Homo sapiens: one gene and its partners. Changing the gene in region 7 together with the main gene of any one other region gives a genetic interaction. Each region holds a gene or a part of one and is shown on either strand. Other genes may lie near its edges. The genes, in order: SEC31A, ATP2B1, PRKAA1, CNOT9, YBX1, HNRNPU and GBF1.

The links.
Region 1: changes in GBF1 (region 7) and SEC31A together harm fitness less than expected from each alone (positive genetic interaction), as found in Homo sapiens cells (one study listed by BioGRID).
Region 2: changes in GBF1 (region 7) and ATP2B1 together harm fitness more than expected from each alone (negative genetic interaction), as found in Homo sapiens cells (one study listed by BioGRID).
Region 3: changes in GBF1 (region 7) and PRKAA1 together harm fitness more than expected from each alone (negative genetic interaction), as found in Homo sapiens cells (one study listed by BioGRID).
Region 4: changes in GBF1 (region 7) and CNOT9 together harm fitness more than expected from each alone (negative genetic interaction), as found in Homo sapiens cells (one study listed by BioGRID).
Region 5: changes in GBF1 (region 7) and YBX1 together harm fitness more than expected from each alone (negative genetic interaction), as found in Homo sapiens cells (one study listed by BioGRID).
Region 6: changes in GBF1 (region 7) and HNRNPU together harm fitness less than expected from each alone (positive genetic interaction), as found in Homo sapiens cells (one study listed by BioGRID).

The regions. Positions count from the first base shown.
Region 1 is NC_000004.12:82,818,154-82,821,653, reverse strand, and holds the end of SEC31A (protein transport protein Sec31A), read left to right. Parts: intron 1-545; coding exon 546-617; intron 618-2,400; coding exon 2,401-2,580; 3' UTR 2,581-3,145; downstream 3,146-3,500. UniProt on the Homo sapiens protein: Component of the coat protein complex II (COPII) which promotes the formation of transport vesicles from the endoplasmic reticulum (ER).
Region 2 is NC_000012.12:89,590,694-89,593,838, reverse strand, and holds part of ATP2B1 (plasma membrane calcium-transporting ATPase 1), read left to right. Parts: intron 1-2,543; coding exon 2,544-2,855; 3' UTR 2,856-3,145. UniProt on the Homo sapiens protein: Catalyzes the hydrolysis of ATP coupled with the transport of calcium from the cytoplasm to the extracellular space thereby maintaining intracellular calcium homeostasis.
Region 3 is NC_000005.10:40,788,375-40,791,874, reverse strand, and holds part of PRKAA1 (5'-AMP-activated protein kinase catalytic subunit alpha-1), read left to right. Parts: intron 1-1,670; exon of another isoform or gene 1,671-1,804; intron 1,805-1,841; exon of another isoform or gene 1,842-1,923; intron 1,924-3,500. UniProt on the Homo sapiens protein: Catalytic subunit of AMP-activated protein kinase (AMPK), an energy sensor protein kinase that plays a key role in regulating cellular energy metabolism.
Region 4 is NC_000002.12:218,578,839-218,582,338, reverse strand, and holds part of CNOT9 (CCR4-NOT transcription complex subunit 9), read right to left. Parts: intron 1,779-3,500; coding exon 1,599-1,778; intron 1,330-1,598; exon of another isoform or gene 1,270-1,329; coding exon of another isoform or gene 1,225-1,269; intron 1-1,224. UniProt on the Homo sapiens protein: Component of the CCR4-NOT complex which is one of the major cellular mRNA deadenylases and is linked to various cellular processes including bulk mRNA degradation, miRNA-mediated repression, translational repression during translational initiation and general transcription regulation.
Region 5 is NC_000001.11:42,692,418-42,695,917, reverse strand, and holds part of YBX1 (Y-box-binding protein 1), read right to left. Parts: intron 2,429-3,500; coding exon 2,395-2,428; intron 1-2,394. UniProt on the Homo sapiens protein: DNA- and RNA-binding protein involved in various processes, such as translational repression, RNA stabilization, mRNA splicing, DNA repair and transcription regulation.
Region 6 is NC_000001.11:244,854,544-244,858,043, reverse strand, and holds part of HNRNPU (heterogeneous nuclear ribonucleoprotein U), read left to right. Parts: coding exon 1-33; intron 34-326; coding exon 327-446; intron 447-1,187; coding exon 1,188-1,316; intron 1,317-1,418; coding exon 1,419-1,587; intron 1,588-1,885; coding exon 1,886-2,140; intron 2,141-2,435; coding exon 2,436-2,620; intron 2,621-2,999; coding exon 3,000-3,071; intron 3,072-3,500. UniProt on the Homo sapiens protein: DNA- and RNA-binding protein involved in several cellular processes such as nuclear chromatin organization, telomere-length regulation, transcription, mRNA alternative splicing and stability, Xist-mediated transcriptional silencing and mitotic cell progression.
Region 7 is NC_000010.11:102,364,032-102,367,531, reverse strand, and holds part of GBF1 (Golgi-specific brefeldin A-resistance guanine nucleotide exchange factor 1), read right to left. Parts: intron 2,136-3,500; coding exon 1,933-2,135; intron 1,150-1,932; coding exon 1,026-1,149; intron 448-1,025; coding exon 322-447; intron 55-321; coding exon 1-54. UniProt on the Homo sapiens protein: Guanine-nucleotide exchange factor (GEF) for members of the Arf family of small GTPases involved in trafficking in the early secretory pathway; its GEF activity initiates the coating of nascent vesicles via the localized generation of activated ARFs through replacement of GDP with GTP.

The DNA of each region.
Region 1 (3,500 bases), on a different chromosome or scaffold from region 7:
TCATCCTCTCCTCATCCCAGTCCCCTCCACCCTCCACCCTTGATAGATGATTGATCTCTGTTCTAATAATCTGTTCAAGTTTCTTTTTTTTTTTTTTTTTTTTTTGAGACGGAGTCTTGCACTGTCGCCTGGGCCTGGAGTGCAGTGGCGTGATCTCGGCTCACTGCAACCTCCACCTCCTGGGTTCAAGCAATTCTCCTGCCTCAGCCTTCCGACTAGCTGGGATTACAGGCGCCTGCCACTACGCCCAGCAAATTTTTTGTATTTTTAGTAGAGACAGGGTTTCACCATGTTGACCAGGCTGGTCTCAAACTCCTGACCTCATGATTTGCCTGCCTTGGTCTCCCAAAGTGCTGGGATTACAGGCGTGAGCCACCACGCCCGGCCATAATCTGTTCAAGTTTCTTAGTTGTAGTTGCCTCCATTTCTTTATAAAATGAAGCCATTCAACATTTTAAGTATAAGGTTTAGTGCAATGAGATAGGGCAAGTTCTTAGGTTAAAAGTTAATGTTCAAATATAACATCTATTTTTTCTTTCCTGCAGCAAACCAAGAGGAAGCTAGATGATGCCAGCAAACGTTTGGAGTTTCTGTATGATAAACTTAGGGAACAGACAGTAAGTTTTGGAGGAAAAGGATTTATGATAATCATTTATTCCTAGTTGCTAGTAAAACAGTTGTCTTATCAGCACTCCCATTTAGTATGCATGGGGGCAAAATTGTCATGACATTTAGAGAATGGGCATGGCTGTGTTGAATCATAAATTCCACTCACTGGGGTTAAGGGGATACGGGTGTGTGTGTGTGTGTTTGTGTGGGTGTGTTGAGAGAGACATTTTAACCCTCTCATAACAAGAGTATAAATACAAACTGGCCTGTGTTGGCCATAAGGTAGCTGACCTTCTGCTGTTCCTTTTATATGGCCCAGTTACAAGAAATCAAAGAGTATGCAGATACTCTGTTTTCCAGGGACTAAATCTATAATCTTTATCATAGTCTAAGACTCTTGACCCTTTTCTTTTAGGATAGCCATTATACAAAAGCAAAGCCAAATGTAGCCACAAGATGAATAGGGTAATGTGCTGTAACTATGAAGATAGCCAGGAGTAAGAAGTCAGTTCACTACGTTTGTTCTCTTGTCCCCACCTCACCATTCTTTTCTAAAATTGTCTTGTTTTATTAATGAAAGCACTAGGAAAGGAGAAGAAAAAAAGAAGTGGGACTTTCTTTTTATTTTTTCCATTTCAGCATTCCTCTAACCCATTCCCCACACTCAGTTCCATCAGATGAAAATAACCATTTCTCTCATGAGAACCAAACTAAAGAAAGTTGATATAACAGTGGAAGTAGTGTGGTCCTTGGACTGATCCAAAATAAAGTCTTCTCGGTGGGCACAGTGGGATATGCCTGTAATCCCAGCTACTGAGGAGGCTGATGCGGGAGGATCACTGGAGCCCAGGAGTTTGAGACCAGCCTGGGCAACATAGCAAGACCGCATTTCCAAAAAAAAAAAAAAAAAACAGAAGATACAATTAGCGTATACATCTAGATGAGTATATATTAAAACATTTTTTAAAAATGAGATCAAAATAGGCCAGGCATGGTGGCTCACGCCTGTAATCCCAGCACTTTGGGAGGCTGAGGCGGGCAGATCACCTGAGGTCAGGAGTTTGAGACCAGCCTGGCCAACATGGCAAAACCCCGTCTCTACTAAAAATACAAAAATTAGCTGGGCATGGTGGCACACGGCTGTAGTCCTAGCTACTCAGGAGGCTGAGGCAGGAGAATCGCTTGAACCCGGGAGGCGGAGGTTGCAGTGAGTCGAGATCGCACCACTGTACTCCAGCCTGGGTGACAGAGTGAGACTCCATCTCAAAAAAAAAAAATCCAAATAAAGTCTTCTGTAAAGTATGGACACCTATGCCAAGTAATGACATAGTAAAAAACTACAGGTTTTATAGTTTTAAGAGATGACAGGATTATAAAAAGCAGGTAAGAATTAGTAAATTTGGGCCCTTCCTTTGAGATATTATGATTAAGAATCTTTAATCTCCTTTTTGTGCATAGGAGAATTTTTTAAAGGTCTGAAGCTCTCTTAAGTGGAGAGAGAAATTAGCATTTCAGTTTGGAGAGGAAATCGGGCTGCTTTTCTGTAAGAAAATACCTGGCTTATACATGTATAATTCATAAATAACTTATTTATGTAAATCATTTTGTTGTGGTTGTACTTGATAACTGTTGCTTGGTTCAAGAAACTTTCTAGAAATGCTAAATGGTTTATATATTTTTATAATGTTTGTTTCAAATTCCACTTAAATATCTGGGTTTAATGTTTATGGAGGATCTCATGGGAAGTTATCCCTTAATTTAATTCTTTCTCTTGGTTCACTTTTGTTTCAGCTTTCACCAACAATCACCAGTGGTTTACACAACATTGCAAGGAGCATTGAAACTCGAAACTACTCAGAAGGATTGACCATGCATACCCACATAGTTAGCACCAGCAACTTCAGTGAGACCTCTGCTTTCATGCCAGTTCTCAAAGTTGTTCTCACCCAGGCCAATAAGCTGGGTGTCTAAAAGGACAGCTTCTCTTCCACTCAATATTGCCATTTTTCCAAAGAAACATGTTAAAAAAAAAAATTATAAGACATGGACTAGTCCTCATTAGCATGTTTGCATAGCAACCAGTCAAGAGCATTTACACTATTTCTGCTGATATACTCACCTTAGAACTGCTCAGAACCCTGGTGCTTTATTTTTGTTTTAATCTTTTGTTGCCAGTGATGATTTTCCTATTCTGCAAATAGTGTATTTCCTGGATTACACATAGTATGGTTTCCTGAAGTATTCTGATAAATGTGTTTTTTAAAACCTCAATATACTTTTTAGAAAAGGAGCATCTGGTTATGCATAAAGCAGAGCTAAAACTAAATTTCTTTCATGTCCTCCCTACTTCCTCAGTGTCAATCAGATTAAAGTGTGTAATCCTATTTTATGTGTGTATAGTCTTTTTTGAAACAGCTGCTTAAAATTTAGTTTATTTTTTGTGTCTTAGGATTCCTGAGTAAATAACTACATCTACAAACTGCTACATGGGTTTTAGCAGATATTAATAAAAATGGGATCACTGGCTTTAACTATATAGGAAAAGACTGGACATTTTTGTTCTGTAGAATGCATTGAGCTTTTTTCTATTTGTAAATGTTTCAATATTCTGTTTGAGTTTTAAGACTAAATTGTGTCCATTTTATAGCTAGAAATTTTTTCACCTATTTTGTTTAAATTACCTATAGCTGTGCCAGGCATGGTGGCTCACGCTTGTAATCCCAGCACTTTGAGAGGCCGAAGCAGGCAGAGGTCGGGAGTTCGAGACCAGACTGGCCAACATGGAGAAACCCTGTCTCTACTAAAAGTACAGAATTAGCCGGGCGTGGTGGCGCATGCCTATAATCCCAGCTACTTGGGTGGCTGAGGCAGGAGAATTGCTTGAACCCGGG
Region 2 (3,145 bases), on a different chromosome or scaffold from region 7:
GTTTTATTATTTATGAAGTGGTTAGAAAAAAAAAATCTCTAATATTGTTCAACAAATTCAGATAGGAAAAATCTTCTCAGAATTGAAGTTTTGCTAAGAAGGGATTTAATCTTTCTTTGCCTGCCACCGGTGTATGTGTGTGATTGTGTGTGCACATATACTTGTTGCCCTCACCTTTACACTCTGCCCCTCTTAGAGCTTCACTAACTCTCAAATCTCTAACTTAAGTTTACACTTTTCTTCTGAGCTCTAGATATTTTCCAAATTTAACATGTTTAAAAAGTACATTTATTTCCCCCCGATTCTTCACTGCTCACTTTTATACCGACTGATTACAAAGAAAAACAGATGGAAAACACACACATACACAGAAAGCTTAACTGTTGTTCTATCTTCAGTAGCAGCAGCACCAGCAACCTTATCAAATAAGCAACATCTTCAGGGTTGTCTTGAACAGTTCTCATCACCCATCAAGTTTGCTGGCTGATCCTCTAATTTGTATTCTCCTCCGTGCCTACGGGCTGCTGATACCAACAAATTTTTTTTTAGAAAGTTATCTTTTTGCATTTTAAGCTTTACAGTTTGTTATTAGGACAGTCAGGATACTTGCTGAATGTTCACATGTATAAAATGTGAATTTTAAGACTTCACAATAAAACACTGAATGAATTACTATAACGTTATATTTAGCAAACATTGTTTACATTCCATATGTAGAACACTTTACATCTTAGTAAAGGGGAAGAGGAACAAGAGCAATAAAAGAAGTTGAAAAATATTTGCTGCTATTCATCAGTCAAATTAAGGAACTGAAGTACAAGCAATCAAATAGAATGGAATTATAAAAGATGGTAAAGCTGCAAGACATTAATAGAATAGATGCTTGCTGCTCCAAGTGTGGATCATGGACCAGCAGCTTTAGCATCACCTTGGAGGTTGTTAGAAATGCAGGACTTTAGGCCCCTGCTGAATCAGAATCTGCATTTTAACAAGATCCCCAACTAATTTGTATGCACATTAAAGTTCGAGAAGCCCTGGCCTCGATACTTGTGACCTAACATTGTTTTAAGTTTGTAGTGTGCTAACGAATTTAATCTCCCACAACAACCCCGTAAGGCAAGTACCATTGCTATTTCCCATTTTATAGTTGAAGAAACCTGTTTGACCGAGGTTCCTCAGGTAGTAAGTGGCAGAGCTGGAATTTACACCCAGACATTTTGCTTTTGTATTTCTCAGTTGACTATGCTGTACTCTCTATATAAAGGGCTAAGTGAATATGGACTAAAAGCAGCTTACAAATAGGGCTTGGCAAATAAGGAAAGACAACTTGAAGGTGAGATGTGGGTGCATGGCCCTAAACTCTACATTACATTTTTTTAAACACATTCACATGTTCATTTGAAGAAATGTATTATTCATTATTGCTGTCTAAAGAGATGAATTTGGTGACCGCATCTTTTTTCTAGAATGTCAAAGTGTTATTTATTTCTCTTAACAATGAGTAAATGATGTCTTTATTACTAAACAGGATTTATTAGAATCAAAGCAAAAGCAAACACTGTATTTGAATTGATACATAGTAAATGCTCAACTAGTTGGATTTTGTCCTTTTTTTTCTAAATCTGAATGACGCTTGAGTTAATAGCACTTAATGTCAGTGTGTGCACTGATGTTTTTAAGTTTGATTGCCCACTAATCTTTTTCATTTATACAGCAGACTGAGAGGAAGATGAATTGTTGAGCTATCTGCTTAGGGGTGAAAATACTAGAAAACTTTTAACACTTTGTGTCTTCTTGGGAAATTTTTCACAGAAGAATCCCAGAGGATTTGTTTTTGTTTTTGATCTATTCTTTCCAGATAACTGTAGTAATTGATTTAAGTTTTAATCTGTTACAGAGAAAAACACTAAAACTTTATAGACAAATGATAGACAAATGGCATATACTCAAATATTTATAGCTGTTTAATGGCATTTTATAGACATTTATTTGGGTTTTGTTCTTATTTTTGTTTTTAATTAAGGGAGTAGTGGGGTAGATGTGAGTTCATTGTGGCATTCAGCTTATATTTGCTTGGCTTTTTCATGGTCGGTGACACCCTAATTCCTAGCATGATAAATAGTAACCCTTTGTGCTTGATTTTGTTTAACTTATTTGAGTTGTTTTCAAAATACATTCTTTTTAATTTAAAAAATCAGCTAAGCTTGTGTATGGTTAAGTTTTTGTTTTGTTTTGTGTTTGATTTGTTCTTTTAGGGAAAAAATCCTATAAAATGGCTATTAAATTTTTAGCCAATGACAATGAGATTTTCTTAATATTACTTTGAATTCTTTACCTCTTAATTCTTAGAGTATGTGGTTTTGTTGTTCTGTAGTGTCTTACTAAAATATTCATTTTTTTACAGTGTATTGCAAGTTCCACTGCATTACATGCAAATATGATTCACTCATACCTAGCTGTTTGTGGATTCAAACTCATAAATGAACCATTTTTAAGTTGTTAATAGTGTACTGACATATTTCTGTATTTTCTGATATTTACAGATTCGAGTGGTGAATGCATTTCGTAGTTCTTTATATGAAGGGTTAGAAAAACCGGAATCAAGAAGTTCGATTCACAACTTTATGACACATCCTGAGTTTAGGATAGAAGATTCAGAGCCTCATATCCCCCTTATTGATGACACTGATGCCGAAGATGATGCTCCTACAAAACGTAACTCCAGTCCTCCACCCTCTCCCAACAAAAATAACAATGCTGTTGACAGTGGAATTCACCTTACAATAGAAATGAACAAGTCTGCTACCTCTTCATCCCCAGGAAGCCCACTACATAGTTTGGAAACATCACTCTGATTGTAAGCTGAATGTTAACACACTAGCTGCATTGTAAAGAAACAAATTGAAACTGGGTCTTTTCACATATTGTGATGGACAAGCTAGTATTCTTGTCTTTGGACTTCAACAGAAGACACACTTGTACGAATGTAGATTTATTTTTTTAAAAAAAAAAAAGCAAAGCTTTCTGCCAGACTGAGGGTGCTTTTTGGGGGGTGGGAGAAATGAACTGACAGATAAACAGTAACTCAGCGTAAGTGACCTGTGGATCATCAGTAGTACCCAAGCATGGTCCTGAACAGTGTATT
Region 3 (3,500 bases), on a different chromosome or scaffold from region 7:
TTACTTCTGAGGACAGATGAAGGATAAGGGAATCTGGGAGGAGTCATGCAGGGCTTGAGTTGTATTTGTAATGTTTTATTGCTTAAGCTGATGGTGGCTCATGGGTATTTGGAATGCCCTTGGTGTGCTTGAAATGTTTGTTTGCTTTCTTAAATTACGATCTATAGCTTTTAAAGCCCACCCTTCCCCAGGATTAAGCTATTTCCTTAACACGTTTTTATTCTTTCAATTTTAAAGTGGGAATGAAATGGTTAGGTGTCTAGAATATCTTTAGTAGATATTTCTATCTTTGCTGCTTCTCTGTCCTATTAAAATCCTCTGTTTCAAAGTATGATCTTGTTTCCCTTCAGGATTATATATCTAATTAGAAGAGCATTTGTTACAATGTTATGCAGTTAGACAAAGTTCCCTTTAGATAGCAATAGCATGGTTGTTAGCTAATATTTAGTTGACTAATCTGCTATTCTTGTGAGGGGGACATTGTGAATGCTGGTAATATTTGCTCTGAGTAATGTGCAAGTCTTCCGTGGCCAAAATATCTGTCTTCCGTTTCATTTAAAAGCAAAACCTTAGCACTATTCTAAAAACTGACAGTCTGAAGAATAAAGTTTGAATTTTGAAAAAGGGGGGAATCCCTTAGTAGTGCATATGCCTGACAGAGTCCATTTACTACATTCATTGATTGACTATGGAACAGCATTTAGTTTGGCTACAACTGAGTTTACTCACTGGGGAGAATATTTAGCCTGGTTTTGAGAAAACAGTTTAGTTTCTGATACCATGCCAAGCCCTTTGTCCCTCTCACTGCACAGTGATGGTGGGGAGAGTGGATAGGTCAAAAGACTTGGGAGTCGGAAGACCTGTCCCAACTTGATCACAATAGCTTTACTTCCACAACTTACAGAATCTCTTAGAGCCTCAGTTTCTTTATCTGTAAAAGACAATACCTCCATCATAGGTTTATGCTCAAATGTGATAATGTGAGTGTCTCCTAAGCTATTAGATGCCATATTTTAAAAAGTATTATGCTACTGAAGGCCGGGTGTGGTGGCTCACGCCTGTAATCCCAGCACTTTTGGGAGGCTAAGGCGGGCAGATCACGAGCTCAAGATATTGAGACCATCCTGGCCAACATGGTGAAACCCCATCTCTACTAAAAATACAAAAATCAGCTGGGTGTGGTGGCATGCGCCTGTTGTCCCAGCTACTCGGGAGGCTGAGGCAGGAGAATTGCTTGAACCCCGGAGGCAGAGGTTGCAGTGAGCCGAGATTGTGCCACTGCACTCCAGCCTGGCGACAGAGCGAGGCTCCATCTCAACAACAACAACAACAACAAAAAAAAAAAAAAAGAAAGAGTTGACTCCTGATAGACTATGAAGGCTGGGATACAAATTCAAAAAGCGGAAAACCACACGAGCTGGAACACTATAGGCTGGGAGCAAAAAGCCCTATCCTGCTAAATAACTCCCACTGCTGTCACTGTGTGAGGGTATAAGGAGCAGTTGATACTCATAAGTTAACATTTGTTTGGTTCCCAGTCTTCATGTACATGTGTTCCATTTAAGAAGTCATGATCATGTGTAGTACAATTAGAAAACCTGTTTTCAAAAAATATTACTTCTGTTAACTTGTTAATTTTAATGGTGAATATCATAGTTTAGAAAATCCACCCTCCTTTTCTTGTCAGGGACTGAGTGTGTGGTCCTGCTCCTGTTATGTATGGAGGCAAAGGGAAAGGGCTCCGGCCCCCTCAAAATCATGTCTTTGGTGCCAGCCGGTTCTGTTCTCAGTCACCTGGATACTGAACTTTCCTGAGCAGGGCAGAACTGAGATCCAGTGGGCTTCTCCCCAGGATGCTTACGCTTTTTCATTTGATTTCAGGTCTCCTCTTTCGCTTCCTATTGCAACCAATGAAGGCCATTCCTACCATAAGTAAATAAAAAAGAAAATCTATCTTTAATAAATAACAATTGTATATATTTATGGGGCACAATGTGATGTTTTGATACATGTATACATTCTGCACTGATCAAATCAGGCCAAGTAGTATATCCATCTCCTCAAATATTTATCATTTCTTTGTGGTGAGAACATTTAAAGTTCCCTTTTTTAACTCTTTTGAAAAATTAATATATTTACTGTAATCATGATGCTATGCAATACAACACCAGGATCCTGTTCCTCCTGACTGTAATTTTATGTAGCCATTGACCAATATCTTCCTTTTCCCCTCCAGCCCCACTTACCCCAGCTACTGGTAATCACCATTCTACTCTCTACTTCTGTGAGTTTGACTTTTTTAGATTCCAAATATAAGTGAGTCTCAGACACCTCTGACATACTGATTTCAATTCCTTTGGATATATACTCAGTAATGGGATTGCTGGATCATATAGTAATTCTATTTTTAGTTTTGTGAGGAACCTCTACACTGTTTTACAAAATGGCTGTATTTATAGTTTCACCAGCAGTGTATAAGTGTTCCATTTCTCTGTGACCTTGCTAACACTTATCTTTCACCTTTTTGATAATAGCCAGTCTAACAGGTGTGAGGTGATACCTTATTGTGGCTTTAATTTGCATTTCTCTTATGATTAGAGATGTTCAGCATTCTTTCATCTATCTGTTGGCCATTTGTTTGTCTTTTTTTTTATTTTTATTTTTGAGACAGTGTCTCACTCTGTTGCCCAGGCTGGAGTGCAGTGGCATGATCATGGCTCACTGCAGCCTTGACCTCCTGGGCTCAAGCGATCCTCCCACCTCTGCCTCCCAAGTAGCTGGGACTACAGGCATACACCACCACGCCTGGCTAATTTATGTATGTTTTATAGAGACAAGGTCTCACTGTGTTGCTTAGACTGGTCTTGTATTCTTGGGCTCAAGTGATCCACCCGCGTCGGCCTCCCAAAGTGCTGAGATTACAGGCATGAGCCACCATGCCTGGCCGGATATTAGCTATATATCTGATGCATGATTTGTAAATACGTTTTCTCAGTCTTTGGGTTGTCTCTTCACTCTATTTGTTTTTGCTTGTTTGTTTGTTTTTTTGAGATGCAGTCTCCCTCTGTCACCCAGGCTGGAGTGCAATGGCGTGATCTTGGCTCACTGCAGCGTCCGCCTCCCGGGTTCAAGCGATTCTTTTGCCTCAGCCTCATGAGTAGCTGGGACTACAGGTGTGCACCACTACGCTCAGCTAATTTTGTATTTTTAGTAGAGATAGGGCTTCACCATGTTGGTCAGGCTGGTCTCGAACTCCTGACCTTGTGATCCGCCTGCCTCGGCCTGCCAAAGTGTTGGGATTACGCGTCTGGCCTGTTTGTTTGTTTTTTGCTGTTCAGAAGCTTTTTAGTTTGATGTCATCCCATTTGTTTATTATTGCTTTTGTTGCCTGTGCATTAGGGGATCATATACAAGAAATGATTGCCCAAACCTGTGTCATGGAGCTTCTCGCCTAAGTTTTCTTCTAGTAGATTTGTAATTTCAGGTCCTAAATTTAATCC
Region 4 (3,500 bases), on a different chromosome or scaffold from region 7:
TCAGTTGAGGGATACTCAAATTTTTATAATTTTGCTAGCATCCTGCTTTAAGTTACAGTGATGAGATCACTGGCCAGAAAGTGTTAAGTCAACCACGGTGACTCATAAAGAAGTTTGAATTTGGTTAGGTAGTAACATGGTAAGGACATGAATCAATGGGTGGGGATATGTATAAACAGCAGTGAATATATGCACTATCTGTCAAAAAGTAATGATTTACTCAATACAATTCCATTTACATTTTTTTTCTTTTTTTTTGAGACAGGGTCTCACTCTGTCATCCAGGCAGAGTGCAGTGGCATGATCATGGCTCACTGCAGCCTCCACCTCCTGGGCTCAATTGATCCTCCTACTTCAGCTTCCCAAGTAGCTGGGATTACAGGAGTGTACCACCAAGCCTGGCTAATTTTTGTATTTTTTGTAGAAATGGTGTTTCGCCATGTTGCCCAGGTTGGTCTCAAACTCCTGGGCTCAAGCAATCCTCCTAACTCAGTCTGCCAAACTGCTGGGATTACAAGCATGACCCACTGCACCTGGCTACAATTTTCCATTTACATTATTTGTAAAACTTTTACATAGAAAAACGTTCCCATAACAAAGATCAGTTTCTTGGCTAAATGCAATAGAGATGGAATGTGAATTTACTTAAGAGTTGAAAAGTTAATCTAATTGTTAGGAATTTGGGGCAATACTTTAATGGATGATCATGCCACTACCTAGGTATTTTGGTATTGTTATTGTACCATATCAGTTAATTAGCCACCAGTGACCATTCTGGTTTGAACTGAACTTCAGTTATCTATTCTTTAATGTACAAGTGTACCCACCTTTAATACTACAGCTGTTATACCTTCAACATTTCCTTTCCAGGCCAGGCATGGTGGCTCATGCCTGTAATCTCAACATTTTGGGAGGCCAAGGTGGGTGGATCACGAGGTCAGGAGTTCAAGATCAGCCTGACCAACATGGTGAAACTCCGTATCTACTAAAAATTAAAAAAAAAAAAGCCAGGCATGGTGATGCAGGCCTATAATCCCAGCTACTCAGGAGGCTGAGGCAGGAGAACCACTTCAACCCGGGAGGCAGAGGTTGCAGTGAGCCGGGATTGCACCATTGCACTCTAGTCTGGGCGACAGAGCGAGATTCCGTCTCAAAAAAAAAAAAAAAAGAAAAACAAACAAAAAAACCCAAAAACCCATTTCTTTTCCATAGAATATATTGTACCTTGTGGTCCTTATACTCTACTTTCCACCTTCCTCCCCCTGTCATGTAGATTTATCTTACAGTACTCCTAAAGCGGTGTTCGTCAAAGCGTAGTTCTTAGATCACTTGCATCACAATCACCTGGGGGAGGTGAAAGTGCTTATTAAAATATAGATTATAGGGCCCACCTCAGACTGACTAAATTGAATCTCTTGGGTAAGGATCCAAGAATCTGCATTTTAACAAATACCTCAGACCTTTCTAAAACAGATTCTTACAAATGCAGTTTTTTAAAGAATCATCCTCCTAAAGTCTTCAAATCATTTGGGCAAAGGTAAAGAAATATACAAGTGTAATGAAAAGAACTGAACTGCCAATCATGGACATGAACCCACCTGTAAAAGTGCTGCAATAGTACCAAATGAATGCCACAGCATGGGTGCAAGGTCAGGAACAGATTCTCGCTTCTTACTTAGCTCCAGCAAAGCATTTTCCCTAGTCTCAGGACTGGACAGCTCATTGATCCACTGATAGATCTTTTCTCTATCCACTTGTGCCAGTGTAGTAGGCACAGGCTTCAGATGAAGACAAGAAAGTAAATATCAGTTTATTAGAGTCAAACCAAGTCTTACCCTGCAACAGAGTTTTAGAGGAAATATATTTTTCATGAATACCAGGGGAGCGTTTCTAAATACATACATTTGATGTCAACTATTCAATCTCTTTGGTAGTTACTGATGAAAATCTAAAATGCACACATACCCTTTGATAATTCCATGTTTAGGAATTTATCCTGTAGGTATAATTGGGCTGTGCTAAAGACATACCAGGATGTTTACTGTTGCACTGTTTTAAAAGCAGAAAAGTGGCCGGGCGCGGTGGCACACCCCTGTAATCCCAGCGCTGTGGGAGGCCATGTTGGGTGGGTCACTTGAGGTCAGGAGTTTGAGACCAGCCTGGCCAACATGGCGAAACCCCGTCTCTACTAAAAATACAAAATTTAGCTGGGTGTGGTGATGGGCGCCTGTAATCCCAGCTACTCAGGAGGCTGAGACAGGAGAATTGCTTGAACTTGGGAGGTGGAGGTTGCAGTGACCCGAGATAGCGCCACTGCACTCCAGCCTGGGCGACAGAGCAAAAAAAAAAAAAAAAAGCCAGGTGTGGTGGTGCATGCCTGTAGTCCCAGCTACTCAGGAGGCTGAGGCACTAGAATCGCTTGAGCATGGGAGGTGGAAGTTATAGTGAGCTGAGATTGCACCATTGCACTCCAGCTTGGGCGACAGAGTGAGACTCTGTCTCAATAAACAAACAAACAAATAAATAAATAAATAAATAAATGCAGAAAACTGGGCCAGGCGTGGTGGCTCATGCCTGTAATCCCAGCACTTTGGGAGGCCAAGGCAGGTGGATCATGAAGTCAGGAGATTGAGACCATCCTGGCTAACACGGTGAAACTGGTGTCTCTACTAAAAATACAAAAAATTAGCTGGGCGTGGTGGCAGGCGCCTGTAGTCCCAGCTACTCTGGAGGCTGAGGCAGGAGAATGGTGTGAACCCAGGAGGCGGAGGTTGCAGTGAGCCGAGATCGCGCCACTGCACTCCAGCCTGGGTGACAGTGTGAGACTCCGTCTCAAAAACAAAAATGCAGAAAACAAACAAGTATCTCTCACTAAGAGACTGGTTAAATATTGGTGCAGCTTTATAATGTGATACTATGTAGTCCTTTAAAAAAAGAAGCAGCTCTCTATATACTGTATATTGATACTAAGTAAAAACAATAAAAGGGTTACAGAAGAGCATATAAAATGTTTCCATTAATATACACACATATAAAAATAAAAAATACATATACATTCTTACACATTTACATATAACATTTCTAGAAGGACACATAAAGAACTGTTAACTGTAGTTACCTCTAAGGTTGGGGATTTACAGGGAGACTTACTTTTCATTGTTTACACTAAAACCTTTTGCATAAACTTTTTTTAAAAAACCATATGCATATAATAGTTTTTGAGAGGAAAAAAAATTATGCCTTCCCAATACTGGTCCCTCCCCAGTGATTCTGACATCCCCCCTCAACTGAGCAGAAAACCTGTAATTTGGAAAAGCTCTCCCTCTTAATGATTCTTCAGTATATTCTCTAACTACATCCCTTTGAGAACCATTCATTACTTACTCATGTAGGAAATACATACTTAATAGGGCATGCTTTCATTATTATGCTAAAGAATCACAATATTCCCCCCAAATTTGAATATTTTATAATTCTCTATAGTCATCAAATATGTTTGT
Region 5 (3,500 bases), on a different chromosome or scaffold from region 7:
TTTGCAAAAGCATTATATATAACTTTTAACAAATGAGGATATCCATCTATCCCCTGAGGACTGCACTTAATAGGAGAAGGTGGCCCCACACTGCGTCAGTTTAGATGACAGGCGAGTTTGGTTTTGCATGCTTCAAAGCTGACCAAACCAACTTTGCCCCTGTGTTACCGTATCAAACTCAATTACAAATGTCAACCAAAATCCCTTCCAATCTGATAATACATCAGTGGAAATGCAATTCATGTGTATTAACTATGTCATTCTTTATATGATCTGACTGCATGGAATTGTTAGTTATCACCTCCCCAGAATTCAATAAATCTTGTATTAGAGACTTGTTGCTTCTACTTTCTCCAGACTGTTAAGAGAAGGGAGGAAGAGTAACATCTCACGTTTCTATGAAATTTTTTTGCAACATTCTTTCACTTACTATCTATTCAATCTCATTATGAGACAGGACATGTGAAAGTATTGTTAATCCCATTACACAGATAATGTAACAGGCTTTAAAGTTAGGTGACTTGCCCAAGGTCACACAGTTAGTAAGGAGACTTTCTAAACCCAGGTATTGGGTCTCCAAATCCCATGTTCACTCCAAATCTCAGCTATATCCATTACAGGATCACTCATGCATTTCCATTGCAGAGGAGACAGGACAATCAACGAATCTGAGGCCAATTAAGTGAAGCTGCCCAGAACTGCAGTCTCCCTGATACACCACTAAGACCTGAGCAGCCAAAGTCCCAAGAAACAACTACATGTTGAAACCACTTCCAAAAAAATGAAAGCATATTGGTGGCACCTTGTGAATCAGTACAACTGGGTGAGTTGAGTCAAATAATTGATCTCATCTGTCATCTAAACTGTCACATAGTTTTCATACCTTTCAGATATAGCCAACTATCAATTACCTGCAGTCATAGGGGATAGCAGAATTATGGATAATTAAAATCCCAACTCTTTATTTTTATCAACATCTCCACCCCTGCCCCAACCCCAACCCTTAAGGGTTGCCAACAGGCAACAAGACCGAGAAACTTTGCTGTCTCTTGTTCCTAAGTCTACACATTCTTTTGAACATGCAGAAGGGGAGTAAGGAACAGTTGAGCTGTGTTCTTCCAAACAAGAATACCAATTTTATAAAACATCTACTTTAAAACAACATTTTGTCTGAAGTAGTCCTGTATTTATTTACATTTAGAATTTAAATGATTCCATAATTACATTTGACCCTGAACTACCTGATTGGGTTTGGGTGTACTAGAAATTGATATAGCTTCCTCCTTGTCATCAAATACTGTGTAGGACACTTCAGTGAGCTACAAAGCACCAACCTATGACAGCCCTTCCTATGAAACATGCTGCCATAAAAGCTAGTATCTAATTAAATGTGAGTATGGATATTAACTTTTAGGTCTTTTGATTTCTGGATTATAGTACAAAAAAGTAGTTATGGTCTCTAATTTTAATACAAGTTGACAATATTTCAAAAGCCTTAGTGAGAAAACTGATAGCACAAACATATTTTTTCCTACTCATTTCGTATCTGTGAGGATAAGTACATTCAATGTAGCCTACAGCATATCTAAATTTGAAGTATTAACATACACTTGGCAGTGGTTTACATTAGTAATAATCTTAATTCCTGAATGTGCAAACATTTTCCCTAAATGATACTTAGGGAGAAAGTTCACTATGCAGTACTCATCAGTACTCATCCTATGTTAACAGTTTTCTCTTCCCAAATCACTGGAAGCCAATCTAAAAATTATTTAATGAGCAGCTGCCAACCTTGTCACACTTCCCCCCACTTAACCTTAAACTAGTGAAATTTTTTCATTTTCCAAGCCAGCCAAAACTCTCCAAAGGTTTAAAAAAAAAAAAAACCCAATACCCATTCAAAGTGATTTAAAGTAAGCAGAAGGCTCTTTATGCTACTTTTCAAGTACTCACTTCAATTACTATGTTTTGCAGGTCTGTCTTATTTACCCTTGATTATGGAGATTTGTCCCTACAGGTACACCTAAAAGCCTTTGAAAACTTCTTGCCAAAGTTTCTGTGTATTTATAGCAACATTATTTGTTCAACTTTAGAATCATGGAATAATCTGTTCATCTGAAATTAGGTATAAATATTTAATGCAGTGAGTTTGACTCAACATTTGAGAAAGCCACAGCTGTTGACAAAATTCCAATTTGAAATGTCTAGGATAATTAAGTCAACTCTAACACATTTCCACGTATACATTTTTAAGCATGCTACTACTCCTGTCGTAAGTAAATAAACTGGTGGTTGGACTTAACCTTTTATAAGGAACAAAAGCTGAGAACATATCTAACCTTTTCTTCTTACAATCCTTGAATCAGAAGTGCAAATATCTACACAAGCACTCACCTGGTGTACAAATACATCTTCCTTGGTGTCATTCCTGCAAGACAGAACCAAGTTGAACAAGTTAGAAAATGAAATAAATCTCATGTTGTCAAAGATTAATTTTCCCAGAGACTCTCTGGCTGCCAATTAGGTACCAGGAAATTTGGCAAAAATCAAAAAACACAAGCCACCATGCTCTCTGCTTTCAAGACTTCAGCAGTTGCAAACAGTTGTAGCCTCATTACCCGTAAGATAGGCAAAAAAAAAAAAAAGTCTAAGAAATTAAAGTGTGACCTACTGAGCCATAATTAAGAGGGTAGCAATGACTAGCAAAATATATTCTGCCCCTCCTTATCCTATTAAACATTAACTGTTCTAGCACACCCTCCTCTTACCTCTAGAGCATGGTTACCAACAGAAGTAGTAGTTACATTCTCACCTTATCCTGCATCTCCCAACTACCAACTTTCCTTGAGATCATAAAAATGAGAACCCCCCTCCCCACCAACAGAATGTATAACGCAAAGAGTGAAACCTAATGGGAACTGTGACCTTTGGGTGATAAGGTATGTTTGAATGTAAGAAAAGCCCAGTTATAAAAGCTACTCCACAAGTCCAGACAAGGACTGATGAAGGTTTAGACCACGGAGCCATGTATAAAAAGACATTTGAGATCTCTTTTTGAGGCAAAATGAGAAACTTTGTGGATGACTGGATGTCAGAAGCGAGGGGGTAGAGAATAATCTCACTTTTTAGCCTGGATATTGGGATTAAGGTGATAACACGAGGAGCAAGAATCACCACTGGAGAAGGAAACGGATTTCCAGGCCTGCAGTGGCCTGCCTCACCCTCTTTACTCCGTCAGGTCAGAGTGAGAAAAAGCTCAGTAGTAGCTCTAGCGTTTAATGACAAAGGGAACAAAGGTTACAATGAACTGGACAAACTGGCTTACTGACTGTTAGCTTCTTGCTGAACTGGGGGCAACATATGCATCAAAGGATCCACATAAAATTAACTTTAAATCTGACCTGTAAATTATAGCTTGGATTATTATAAGAACATTTTTAATTGATGGGAACAGGATAATTAAAAAAACAGAACAGGTAAACTGTAAAAGCGACTTAAGG
Region 6 (3,500 bases), on a different chromosome or scaffold from region 7:
CCAAAGGGGCCTGAAGAGAAGAAAGATTGTGAAGTAAGGGATTTTTTTTTTTTTAACTGTGGCATTTGAATATTGCTTGCCTGGCACAAAATGACATTTAGAAGAACTAGATGATTAGTCTGTTTCATTTACTTTGTGCTGTGCATATTGCTCTTAAGTAATTGTTTCCCCCTTATGTTGACTGTTAATCTTTCCATAAACAAATTTTTGTCCGTTAGTGTAAGGGCTATGAAAACTTAGATATTTAAATTGGCCTTAACAATATTTAAAGAATTATTAGGTGGTGTCTACTGACAGTGAAATGACATTTCTTTTCTTTTCACTAGGTTGTGATGATGATTGGCTTGCCAGGAGCTGGAAAAACTACCTGGGTTACTAAACATGCAGCAGAAAATCCAGGGAAATATAACATTCTTGGCACAAATACTATTATGGATAAGATGATGGTAAGTAAAATGTTTAGGGCCTGATCTCAGTGTTTAAAATAGACTGGGAGAGGCTGGGCATGGTGGTTCACGCCTGTAATCTCAGCATTTTGAGAGGCTGAGGTGGATGGATCACCTGAGGTCAGGAGTTTGAGACCCACCTGGCCAACATGGCGAAGCCCCGTTCCTACTAAAAATTTAAAAATTAGCTGGGTGTGGTAGTGGGTTCCTGTAATCCCAGCTGCTCGGGAGGTTGAGGCAGGGACAATTACTTGAACCTGGGAGGCAGAGGTTGCAGTGAGTTGAGATCGTGCCATTGTACTCCAGTCTGGGCGACAGAGCAACACTCCGTCTCAGAAAAAAAAAAAAAAGAAAAGAAAAATTATAGACCGGGAGGTATTCTAGGTAAACTTTTTGTCTTTGTCTCTATCCATTTTGTTAGTATCTTAAAGAGATGGGAGGAAAGGCAAGATTAAGTTGGTTCTTTCAACTCTGAGGGTAAACTGCCTTCCACTGGCTAGGCTTCTGTTTTTTTCCGTAGTGTTTTTGAGCTCTTAACATCTAGCAGCTAAAAAGAATTGAGTAAGTGTAAGGTCTTGTTACATAGTTTAAGTGACCCTGTTTTTGTAGCAATAATGGACAAAGGTAATATTTAAATTATAAAATGTTGCCTGCTTTACATATAGATATGAGTTGAATTTTAAAAAGCATAACTTATTAAAATTCACAAGTTCAAGGGGAAATTTTAACTTTTGAATATAGGTGGCAGGTTTTAAGAAGCAAATGGCAGATACTGGAAAACTGAACACACTGTTGCAGAGAGCCCCCCAGTGTCTTGGGAAATTTATTGAGATTGCTGCCCGAAAGAAGCGAAATTTTATTCTGGATCAGGTACGCTGTAGCTTTGAAATTGAAAAATATTAACTGATAATTTAGATAGATTGGTGTAGAATTAATGTTTAGGGTTGTAAACATAAATTTCTTTTTTTAAAGACAAATGTGTCTGCTGCTGCCCAGAGGAGAAAAATGTGCCTGTTTGCAGGCTTCCAGCGAAAAGCTGTTGTAGTTTGCCCAAAAGATGAAGACTATAAGCAAAGAACACAGAAGAAAGCAGAAGTAGAGGGGAAAGACCTACCAGAACATGCGGTCCTCAAAATGAAAGGCATGGAATTTTAATTCTGTTACTGTGTGAAATCTTCTTTTTAAAAGAATGTTTTTCCTACATATTCTGCTTGTGTAACTATGTTAAATCTATTAGGACTTAGGCCTCCTGAAAGTTAACATTTTTTCCAGCAATACTGCTTCAGGAATTAAAATTGCAGTTGTTACATATGCATATATGTTTGGTCTGTTTTTATTTTTAGGAAAATATGTTACTAAACCTCAAGAATTGTCAGCTTTAGGATTGTGAGGATTCGTGGTGGGTTTCTAAATTAATAATATGACTTTGTTTCCTGCAGGAAACTTTACCCTCCCAGAGGTAGCTGAGTGCTTTGATGAAATAACCTATGTTGAACTTCAGAAGGAAGAAGCCCAAAAACTCTTGGAGCAATATAAGGAAGAAAGCAAAAAGGCTCTTCCACCAGAAAAGAAACAGAACACTGGCTCAAAGAAAAGCAATAAAAATAAGAGTGGCAAGAACCAGTTTAACAGAGGTGGTGGCCATAGAGGACGTGGAGGATTCAATATGCGTGGTGGAAATTTCAGAGGAGGAGGCAAGTTAATTTTGAGTGTTCTGTATTTAGTTCAGGATCGAAACAAGTGATAATTTTATAGTTTGGATGTAGCTGAAGTTTCTTCCTCATTAATGGTATACTGTCACAGTAACTAAAGTATTCATGTGATTTGATATTAAATACACCTAGGTTATGTTAATGGTTAGAATTAAACATTTCTTTTGTCTTTAAACAATTATTTTTGGAGAAAAAGGAACAATCTAGAGGAATCCTAAGTCTTCTGTATAAGTAGGGTACAATATACAATGAAACTAAAACAGCTCTTGTCTTTTAGCCCCTGGGAATCGTGGCGGATATAATAGGAGGGGCAACATGCCACAGAGAGGTGGTGGCGGTGGAGGAAGTGGTGGAATCGGCTATCCATACCCTCGTGCCCCTGTTTTTCCTGGCCGTGGTAGTTACTCAAACAGAGGGAACTACAACAGAGGTGGAATGCCCAACAGAGGGAACTACAACCAGGTAATGATTCAAGATCCCTGGAAGCATGATTGATAACTGTAGCTTAGTCTGGAAAGGTGTGAGCTTTATGTTGGGGTGTCTTAGTAATCCGTAAGGAACATGATAGGCATTGACATAAGGAAAATTGAACTAGTAATGGTGAAATGAGTCTACTTACTTTTGAGTTTTTTCAGGTGTACTAAACAAGTCAGATGCATTTCTCATAATGAATAAAAAATTAAAACATAAGAAACCAGCAGAGGGTATCCAGAATTTGTGTATTGCTTGCTACCTAAGATTAGGGGCTAGCAACCTGTCCATTTCTGCTCCTCTCTCTCACCCCCACAAACCTAACAAGCAATTGGGCTCAGAGCTCTTAGAGAGTATTTCCTTTTTGTAGAACTTCAGAGGACGAGGAAACAATCGTGGCTACAAAAATCAATCTCAGGGCTACAACCAGTGGCAGCAGGGTGTAAGTAATTTCTTATGTGCTTTATGTACATTAATTGTATTTTGAGTTCCTAAGATTTATCAGTCTTGAAAAAGATCTTGTTCAGGGATTGAAGTGTTTATAAGTGTTAATAGGGTAAAGTGTGAATCGTCTTGCAGTAGTAGCCATAATCTACCTTTTGAAGGCAAAATAGGTTGAAGATTGCTATAAGTTAAATTTTTTTAATAAAGTAATATTATTTAATATATACAGTTCTTTTACTGCTAGCTTTAATTGTGTAAACTAACAAAGTCATGATGTTTCGTTTTGTAATGTGTATTGATAATTATGGGATATTAAAACTAAATCTGGTTTGGTAGAAATCAGAGGTATGACAGGTATAAATTTGTTTCCAGCAAATTACTCTGAATTAGATTCATTGTCATTTCCTAAAAACAGTTTGAGTGGCTT
Region 7 (3,500 bases):
GTCTTGCTCAAAGTCCTTGCCTCCATTCACACCTTTCAGATTTTTGCGAAACTCCTAGAGACAGGCCAGTAAGTTTTTTCCCCTTGTGTCAACACTGAAGCCCCACCTAAGGAACTCCTGGGTTTTCAGTAAATAGGACTTAGGAAAAGGTAAGCGAAAAAACCCACTTCCCCACCCCAGTCCCTTTTCTAGGTTGGCCAGCCCTTCCTGATTCCCTTGGACAGAACCCCATCCATCATGCCCACTGGAAATCCTATGTCCTTCCTGCTACCTCCCAAGCTGTGCTGGGTCTTCTTTGCCTTGACTGGGACCCAAGCTTACCTCCAGGGTCATGGGTGCATTCTGTTTACGAACATTGTGGTTGTGCTGGTCAGTATTAAGCATGATGACAGCATAGGCCAGGGAAAAGCAGGCATCGCTATTGGCAAATGGGGAGCCATTACAATTCTGAAAAAGCAAAGATCCCGCCTGTGTCAATGCCCTTCTCTGGCCAATTAAACCCTCACTACCAACCCACTGGTCAGTGCTAGTACAGAGGAGAGGTACCATCCAGAAAGTGGCCAGTCTCTTGCCAACTCCTTAACAGAAGCTGATCTCTTTGTGGAAAGGTCACTAATTTTGCTCTCTGACTTTTTAAGAGACAGCAGGCTGGGTGCGGTGGTTCACGCTTGTAATCCCAGCACTCAGGGAGGCCGAGGTGGGCGGATCACCCGAGATCAGGAGTTCGAGACCAGCCTGACCAACATGGCAAAACCCATCTCTACTAAAAATACAAAAATTAGCCAGGCTTGGTGGCAGGTGCCTGAAATCCCAGCTACTCAGGAGGCTAAGGCAGGAGAATTGCTTGAACCCGGGGGGTGGAGGTTGCAGTGTGCTGAGACTGCGCTACTGCACTCCAGCCTGGGTGACAGAGCGAGACTCTGTCTCAAAAAAAAAAAAAAAAAAAAGAGACAGCAGCTGGATTCTTCAGCCCTCAGTCAAACTGACCTTGGATCCTGGGCTCAGCCCCTGACACTCAAACTCACCATCCAACGCTCTGTGAATGCCTCCAGCAACCTCTGGATGACTGGTGCTTCCCCAGGCAAACGGAAGGCTTCCAGGTAGAGGCGGAGGGCTTCGTCCAGTCGCAGACCCTGAAAACTGAAGGTGCTATAGGGAAAGAAAGGAAGAAGAGGCTGAAAATGTGTAAGCTGCACATGTCAGGCTCTTTTAGTCACTGTCCTCCTAACCTACTCTTACTGGAAGAGAGGAGGCTGAGGTCTCTAGTAAAGGGGCAGTATCTCCTGTTCATCCCTAACACAACCCCTAGCCTTAATACTTTTCACATCCACGGACTCTTGCCTAGAACCCTCACCCCCTGGAACCCTGCTCTACCCCTTTGGAATGGACTCCATGCAGAATGGAGGGGGCTCCCCAAACTATCTCGTTGGAGTCCCTTTCAGGTCCAATAGATATAAATGATGGGTAGAGGAAGAACATTGGCTAGGGTCTCCAGAAGAAATTTATAGAGACCGCTTTGAGGTAGGGATGTTCTGTCCCTTTAAACTGATCACTAACCATGTCCCACCTTTTTTTTTTTTGAGCCAAGGTCTCACTCTATCACAGCTCTATCACAGTGGCATGATCTCACTCTATCTCACTCTATCTCACTCTATCACAGTGGCATGATCACAGCTCACTGCAGCCTCGAACTCCCAGACTCAAGTGATCTTCCTGCCTCAGCCTCCTGAACAGCTGGGACTACAGGCACATGCCACCATGCCCAGCTAATTTTTGTATTTTTTGTAGAGACAGGGTTTCACCATGTTGCCCAGGCTGGTCTTGAACTCCTGAGCTCGAGTGATCTGCCTGCCTCAGCCTCCCAAAGTGTCAGGATTACAGGCATGAGCCACCATACCTGGCTATATCCCACATTTCTTACAGCTTCCTCACCTCACAAAGCTCTCCAACAGGTCAATGTTTTTGCGGTCACTCACAAACTCTCCAATCATCTTCTTGTCCAGCCGAGGGTTCTCTCGGAGCCACTGAGCAACCTCTGTGTTGTCCATTGGGATGGTGAGGAGGCCTTTCTCTTGCAGAAACTGAATCCCCTTCTTTGGTTTCTGATTGAACTGCTCTGTGCCAGTGATTAGCAGCTGCATGAGAAAAACTAGAGGTATAGAAGCTACTTTGCCTCTAAATTAGACAAGGCCAGCCTGGAGTCCACCATAGCCCACCCACAGTTGGTCAGCTAAAAAGCTCCTAGGATGTGGTTCTTAGTGATTACAGAACTAAGGCTAGATCATAATGGCCTTAGCTTCCCCCATCTTCATGTCTAATTGAATTGGCTTACGAGCTCTTTTTTACTCCTTTCCTGAGTGCTCAAGATACATAAAACAGTTCCTCTTCTCTAACTTAGGATTGGGGGAAAAGTAGAAGAAAGAAACTAGGTAATTCTTCTCTCCAGTTTTATATCCATCCCTGACATTTGTTGATAGCCAGCCTCTTGTTTTTAGCCTAGCTTAGCTTCTTTGGTTGCCTAGCTTAATGCCCTGGGTTTGAAAGACAAAGTGGACTAACTGTGGAGGCAACTCATATTTCTGTATGTCCAGTCACGGCCAGGTACTCAAGGGCACACATGAACCAAAGTCATTTAAGCTGGCAATAAGAGAAAGAAAGGGTTAGGTTTTTTTTTTCTTTTTCCGAGATGGAGTTTCACTCTGTTGCCCAGGCTGGAGTGCAGTGGCGTGATCTCAGCTCACTGCAACCTCTGCCTCCCAGGTTCAACTGATTCTCCTGCCTCAGTCTCCCGAGTAGCTGGGATTACAGGCATGCACCACCATGCCCAGCTAATTTTTGTATTTTTAGTAGAGACGGGGTTTCATCGTGTTAGCCAGGCTGGTCTCAAACTCCTGACCTCAGGTGATCTGCCCACCTCGATCTCCCAAAGTGCTGGGATTACAGGCGTGAGCCACTGCGCCCGGCCAGAAAGGGTTAGGTTTTCTTTGTGTTAAGAAACCCAAAGTACAGGCCAGACATGGTGGCTCACGACTGTAATCCCAGCACTTTGGGAGGCCAAGGTGGGCAGATCACGAGGTCAGGAGATCAAGACCACCCTGGCTAACACGGTGAAACCCCGTCTCTACTAAAAATACAAAAAATTAGCCAGGCATGGTGGCACACGCCTGTAGTCCCAGCTACTTGGGAGCCTGAGGCAGAAGAATTGCTTGAACCCGGTAGGTGGAGGTTGCAGTGAGCTGAGATCATGCCACTGCACTCCAGCCTAGGCAACAGAGAGAGACTCCGTCTGAAAAAAAAAAAAAAAAAAAAAAAAAGAAATCCAAAGTACAAACAGTTATTTGAACCTTACTATTTGAACCTTACTAAAGCACCAGAATGAATATCAATTTCCCTTTATTGCCAATCATCTTGCAAGAGCTGGAGATGACAGTAACCTTCAATGACCCACAAGACACCAACTCCCAAGGCTCCTGTCACTGCCACTAGTGACACTTGGCTCT